Homo sapiens: one gene and its partner. The protein of the gene in region 2 interacts with the protein of the main gene of each other region in a biochemical or structural test. Each region holds a gene or a part of one and is shown on either strand. Other genes may lie near its edges.

Region 1 (3,663 bases), on a different chromosome or scaffold from region 2:
GGGACCCGGGAGGACAGGGGACGCCTTCTCGCCCCCTCCCCCCTTCCGGCCGCCCAACCCCGCTTCCCGCCCCCGCCCTCCTCACCGGAAAAAAAGCAATCTCGCTGCCCGAGGAGGCTCCTGGCGTCCGCGGGCCGCCCGGGCTCCGCCGGGCTCCGCAGGGCCCTCGCCTGCGCCTCGGGCCTGGGGCCTGGGGCCCGGGGCCCGGCTGGATGCACGTCCCGGCCCCGGCCCCGGCCCCTCCGGGGGCTCGGGTTTTCTTCCCCAACAGGTAGCACGGGCCGCGCCGCGCGAGCCCAGGAAACCCGAGCCCGCGCCAGGGAGGGGCCGCCCGGCCTGGACGCGCCCGCCTCCCGCGGGGCCGAGCCCGCGGCCTCCTGGGGGCCCCAGCGCTGCGGGCCGCGCCTGCACCTGCCGTGGCCACGCCCGGCCGGGGACGGGCAGGCTCGTTTCCAGGGGTGTTCGGTGGTCGGATCCCCCGCCCCGCTTCAGATAACCCATTTGCAGGAAAATGGTTTTATTCCGGGGCTGGGAGTTGGGGGTGGGGTGCAGGCCTGGGTCGTGGAATGTGAGGAGTGGACAACCCTCTATTTTCCTCTCTCTCCCTTTCTTTTTTCCTGAAACAAACAAACAAACAAAAGTCCCTTCCTACAGTCTAGCCAGGAGGAGTTTGGGGGCTGGGGGCAGACTGAGGGAGATCCGAGAAGCAGATTTTGAGGACAGCCACCTCCAGACGGTTGTCTGCAAGGCCTTCAGTCGCTGACCTTTCAGCGGGCTTCAGGAGCCCGGCTGGGAGGCCGGCAGAGGCTGGTGGCCTGAGATCAGGGTGACACTCAGTTCCTCTCCAGGGCCTGCCACCCGTCCGGGAAGGGGGCACTGTGCCAGCCGCCCCTGGGGCACCGGCCTGCCCCTTCCCAGCTGGGGGCTCGGATGCTTCGCGGCCCTCAGGGTCCTCCCTCGGGGATCTGGCTCCCCTCCCGCCACCCCAGCCCAGTCCTTGGATTAAGAAGGGAAAGGGGTGGGGAGGCGGCCCAGGGGCTGCTGCCCCCTGCCTCCCAGACTACGTGAGGGGCTGGGGCCGCCGTGTGCGCTTGGTCCGGCGGGTGGGGGCGGAGCCCACAAACTCGAACTGCTTCTGCTTCTCGGCGTGGTTGGGGAAGGGCAGCTGGCCTTGGTAGAGGCGCTTGATGAAGTGGGCCTCGCGCTGGTTCTGGCGGCTGCGGGAAGCCTGGCGGGGCCGCCCCTGCCGCGTGAAGGCCATGAACCAGCCCTCGTGCCGGGCGTTCTGGAAGGCCGTATAGTTGTTCTCCAGCACGATCTCCGTGAACACGCAGTCTTTGCTCTTCCCGCTGGGCTGCGGGAGAAGCAAGGACAGGAAGGGCATTTGTCCACCTACCCTGGTCTGGGGTGTCGCCCTTACGGCCTATTTTGGACGACTGAGGAGGGACAACGGGAACAACGGGGCCGTGAGCCCAGGGAACTCTGCCTGGTGAGATGGCATCCTATTTAGAGAGGCAACAGTGGCCAACAAGAACACGCTTTGTGGATCTGAGTTGCAGGCTTGTCGTTTAGCGGTCCTGAACCAGGCTGGGCCTCAGCTTCCTGAGATGTAGGTGAAGATCAAGGACCTGCGGCATTTCCCAGCATGCACGGGCCCTTAGCACTGAAATGCTCATGCAGCCTAGGTGAGGGGTGCTGCTGGGCATGGGAGAGGAGGCAGCAGCCTCCAATGAGAAGAAAGAAGGGTGCCAGTGCAGCCACCCATCCCACTCTGTCTGCAATCAGGGGTCTGTGCCCATTTCTACAGACAAGAAGCCTGAGGCTTGACAAAGATAAGCAAACCAAAGGTTATTTGGTCAGCGACAGCCGAATGGGAAGCTGGGATTGCCTGGTTTCAAACGAAGTGGAATTCTCCCACCCAGCAGGGCCCGGCCTACCGTGTGCTTTGGTCACAGGGGCAGCTGCTTAGTGTCTATCTTGCTAGCTGGAGCCCACTGGCCCCACTGAACTTGGGGGAGTTCCTGTCTTACATCTGTGCCCCACTTTCCACCCTCAACAGCTCTTAGTCCTCCACCCAGAGGCTGCAGTGTCAGGTAGATGCTAAGCTCTTACTGATGCCTGCTGGAGAAATACTCCTGACATCAGCCCCACAGATCCCAGTGGCTTGCCAGTCCCCTCAGAGGGCTAATAGAGTCCCGGGGACTCATTTAAATAGAGAAACCAGGCCGGGCTCCGTGGCTCACGCCTGTAATCCCAGCACTTTGGGAGGCTGAGGTGGGAGGATCGCTTTAGCCCGTGAGTTTGAGACCAGCCAGGGCAACATAGTGAGGCCCTATCTCTACAAAAAAAAAAAAAAAAATTAGCTGGGCATGGTGGCATGCACCTATAGTGCCAGCTACTACTTCAGAGGCTGAGGCGAGAGGATTGCTTGAGCCCAGGAGTACAAAGCTGCAGTGGGCTATGATTGTGCCACTGCACTCCAGCCTAGGTAGCAGAGCAAGACCCGGACTCTAAAATAAAAACCAGAGAGTGGCCCAGTGGGTGGGCTGAGAGTAGGATGGGAAGTCTTTACACAGGAGGGTGTGTGGCTCAGAGGAGAGAGGGGAGCATGATGCCCTATATGTCCCCACCCCAGTAGGGCTGATTCTCTGTTACTTCCCAGTCTCCCAGCCTCACCTTCCCGATGAGCTTGCCCCTCTTGTTCATACAGATGTACTTCTCACTCTCAGCCCCTTTGATGCGAACCCGGCTGCCAAACGTGTCCGTCTCCACTATGAGCTTGGCTGTGGTGGGGGAGGGGAGAAAGACCTCCGTCCATCGGGGCTGCCGGCCTATGGCTACAGCAGGGGACCACCCAGCCACACTGACCTCCAGACTCAGGCGAAGGGGTTGGGGACACTCAGGCCCTTGGGGCCCTCAGCCCTGACACAGGATCTGGGGATGGACCAGGAGGTGAGGCAGGGTGGAAGTGAGGCAGAGTGGAGGTGTGGGTGCCCTGGGGGGAGGGCCAACTCTCACCAAACTTGTTGCCGTCCTCGGCGGTGGCGGAGATGCGACGCCCGGTGACCTGCACGTGCTTGCCACTGGTCCTGCTGTAGAGTTGGTACTCGCGGATCTGCCGCCTGCTCAGCTGGTCGGTCATGGCGCCCTGGTCCCTCACGTACTGGTTAAAATTAGGAGACGGGTGATTCTCCCCCTTTGCGGTTACCAAGGGAAAAATAGTGTCAATTTGCTTTGGGTGACACCACCACTGGTCCATCCAAGGGAGAGGGGTGAGGAGGTGAATATAGTGGGGACAGGCCACTTGTCCTGCAGAGTGAAGTGGGCATATGGCCATAGCCTTCCCAGGCCCCTGGGTGAGCCGGTCATAACCTCTTTGCTTTGCGTCTACCTTACAGAAGGGACTGGGGTCTGCCCAGGCTGGGGGACACTTATTGACAGAGCACAGCCCTGGAATCAGGACTCTGGGAGCTGGAAGGAGCCCTCAGGGTTCTATCCCGTCCTCGTATTCTATGAAGGAGGTGCACGGGGCACACAGCTCATTAGGGACAGAACCCCTGTCCCTACCTCTTAGACCAGAGCCTGTCATCTCCCCCAGAACTCCAAGGACATGCTCCATTAGCCAGGACAACCAGATTCCTTCCTCATCCTCCCCACTGGCCT
Region 2 (3,334 bases):
CTGCTGGTGGAGCAGTCCGGGGTATGTGGGAGAGTGGGAAAGGGGAAGCAGTATTCACTTGCATTTTGGTGTGCATGGGAAAAAGCTTGGATTCCTGTGCAAGTTTGATTCTGTGCTTTGGTCATTAGTGGGTAAACTGATAATGTTCGTCATCATTTGCTTGATGGAATACAATGAAGTTTTCTAACACCAGCTTCTGTTACCACAGTACTATCCTATGTGATCCTGTTGGTAATGCTATATGCCTTGCAGCCTCTTTCTAGGTGTATATAAACATACACTGTTTTCTACAATGAGCAACTTACATGATTTTTACATAAAAACATGTACCTTTTGTTAAAATATTTATTTTCCCTAAAATATTTATGCTCTCGCCTGTAATCCCAGCATTTTGGGAAGCCGAGGAGGGCAGATCACCTGAGGCCAGGAGTTCGAGAGCAGCCTGGCCAACATGGCGAAACCCTGTCTCTACTAAAAATACAAAAATTAGTTGGATGTGGTGGTATGTGCCTGTAATCCCAGCTACTTAGGAGGCGAGGTAGGGGAATCGCTTGAACCCAGGAGGTGAAGTTTGCAGTGACTGAGATTGCGCCACTGCACTCCAGTCTGGGAGACAGAGCAAGACTTCATCTCAAAAAGAAAATAATAATAATTTATGATCCTTGCCAACAAAATAAACACTCGTCTGTCACTCACTGTGCAAATTTAGCCATGTCAGTGGCTCCTTCAATATGCAGATAGAGTGCCTTTTATAATTATGGAAAGCATATGCTCTGAGCAGGAAAGATGATAAACCCATCAAGTCTAGTCAAATCTTAAGATAGAGAAATTGTTAATGAATGTATTTTGAGATATTTAATGAGGATGCACAATAGTGTTCTTTTACACAGGAAACTAACTCCAAACCATGCAATTGTCTCAACAAGAAAAAAGTTAAAGTCCCCCAAGTATTTTAGAAGGAAAATAATACACTTAATTTCTGATTTAGGAAATAGTTTTAGAGTGATTTTTTAAAAAGTAATAATCAAATGTAGTGATATGAAGTCTTAGCTCAGCAGCTTTATCTTATGCGTCTGACTGTGGCCTGTGCTGGATAAAGGAAGAGATTGCACTTAAATGAATACAGCTGACCTTCAGAAGTTGAAAGGAAAGGAACGGTTCAAGGGGGGGAAGAAACCAACTTTCTTCTTCTGCCAAAATTGTTGTTTCTAGTATAAGTTCCTTTAACTGTAGACTTGGAATCTACTGATATCCCTGTTTTTTTCCTATCAGATCTGAAAGTTTATGGCTTCATTGAGAAACTGGGAAAAGTTGGTCAGGCGCAGTGGCTCATGCCTGTAATCCCAGCACTTTGGGAGGCCGAGGCAGGCGGATCATGAGGTCAGGAGTTCCAGACCAGCCTGGCCAACATGGTGAAACCCTGTCTCTACTAAAGATACAAAAAATTAGCCGGGCGTGTTGGTGTGCACCTGTAATCCCAGCTACTCCGGGAGGCTGAGGCAGGAGAGTCACTTGAACCGGGGAGGCGGAGGTTGCAGTGAGCCGAGATCATGCCATTGCATTCCAGCCTTGGCGACAGAGCGAGACTCCGTCTCAAAAAAAAAAAAAATAAAAATAAAAAAGAAAGAAACCGGGAAAAGCACTAAAGTTCTATTTTAATGATCTCATGTCTATGCTCAAAGTGATTTATTTATATATTTACATGTAGAGTGGGTCCGTTGATACTGAAATTTGTATCTAGTACCCTAAAATAAAAAAGCAGAATGCCATATTGTCTGGTGGATATAAAAATCGAAGTTTCTTTCCTTCTGAAAATCATTACCATATGCTCAAGAAAAACGGTTCCATTTAGGACAAAATTTCGTTTTTATCATTGTAAGCAAAAAGTTCTCTTTTGATGTGGTGGGCGTGTTTGTTTCCAGTTGTGTGGTTAATGCTGATGTTGTTGGAACTGATACATTCCCCTTCTGGGATGCTGGGATGGGGACTCTTTCTCTTGCCAACCCTGGTGATGAATTAGAGGGTTTTGTGTGTGTGTGTGTGTGTGTGTGTGTGTGTGTCTTTAAAAATGTCTAGTTGCCAACATTCCATGGGCTCTTTTCTGATAACACTGAGGCTGTTTGTGCTGTGGTCTGCACTTTTTGCCCCCTCTCAGCAAAACCACATGTCATAGAATAGTTGTTGGCTTCTGGATGTGTGAGCAGAACTGCCCCACTGTGCCAGCCCAGTGGAGGCAGAGAGACCCACAAGTTCCCAATTTAGAAAGCTTTTCATAGCTTCAGAACAGGGGTCGGCAACTGCTTTCTGTAAAGGGCCAGGGAGTAAATATTTTCAGCTTTGCCGGCCCTGTGGTCTCTGTTGCAACTTCGCCACTGTAGCCTCAAAGTAGCCACAGACAATATGTAAATAGATGTGTTCTAGTCTGTCTTCTAGTAAAATTTTATGGATCCTGAAATTGGAATTTTATATAATTGTATATAAATTTTATTCATTTTAATCCTATAAGATATTCTTCTTCTTTTGATTTTTTTTTTCAACCGCTTACCAATGTTAAAGACCATCTTTAGCCCTCAGGCCATACAAAGTCGTCTGTGGGCACCCAAGTCGGAGGAAGTGTCACCCTGGGGTGATCCAGAGGGCTTTTTGCAGCACCAGCACTGGATGCCTTGGGGAGCAAAGGACACTTTCTGAATCTCGAACCTTCAAAACTTTGAAACTTAACCGATATTTTCCTGAAGTTTCCTTTAACAGTGCATTATGGATTTAACATACATGAGTATGTCTAAGCCTTTTTTGAACCTGTTTACATTTTCAACTCGGAGAGCTTCTGAGAGTAATCAGTTACATCTGTTAAATTACCCACTGAATGAAGAAGTATTCCCCTTCAATTATCCCCGAAACTACAATAGTAAAATGTAATTCAGAAAATAAATATTCATAGTCTCAACTACTTAAAGGGGGTCTGGGGACCCACAACATGTTACCGGTTTTCATTTTGCTGGGGCTCGCATTTGAAGCAAGGGCTCTAGTGAGGAGGTGGTGTAGACTCAGCGGGTTATTTAGGTCCGTGTGAAGCCGAGTTGCCTGCCCAGCACCTATAGCTCAACTAGGTTTTATTGTTCTCTACCTGTCAATAGTTGATTTATGATGGATTCCAAGAGAAAAGCTAAGGACAGCCTGGGGTACATCAGACGTGGTCTCAGGGAGGTCTTCGTGGAAGTCAGGTGGGCTGGGTCTCTGTTCACCTTCTAGGGGTCTCCTGTCCTGTCCCACGTCCAATACCCACATCTCAAGAGTTTGTGTTTGAAATAAAACTCTTCTCTTCCCTTCTTTC

What was found. The genes of interacting proteins can lie anywhere in the genome.
Region 1: the proteins of FGFR2 (region 2) and FGF17 interact in a test that uses a peptide from one of them, tested with the Homo sapiens proteins (one study listed by BioGRID).

The regions. Positions count from the first base shown.
Region 1 is NC_000008.11:22,045,647-22,049,309, reverse strand, and holds the end of FGF17 (fibroblast growth factor 17 isoform 1 precursor), read right to left. Parts: exon of another isoform or gene 3,338-3,663; coding exon of another isoform or gene 3,197-3,337; coding exon 3,019-3,196; intron 2,784-3,018; coding exon 2,677-2,783; intron 1,355-2,676; coding exon 1,061-1,354; 3' UTR 501-1,060; downstream 1-500. UniProt on the Homo sapiens protein: Plays an important role in the regulation of embryonic development and as signaling molecule in the induction and patterning of the embryonic brain. Required for normal brain development.
Region 2 is NC_000010.11:121,480,116-121,483,449, reverse strand, and holds part of FGFR2 (fibroblast growth factor receptor 2 isoform 1 precursor), read left to right. Parts: intron 1-1,272; coding exon of another isoform or gene 1,273-1,278; exon of another isoform or gene 1,279-1,626; intron 1,627-3,334. UniProt on the Homo sapiens protein: Tyrosine-protein kinase that acts as a cell-surface receptor for fibroblast growth factors and plays an essential role in the regulation of cell proliferation, differentiation, migration and apoptosis, and in the regulation of embryonic development.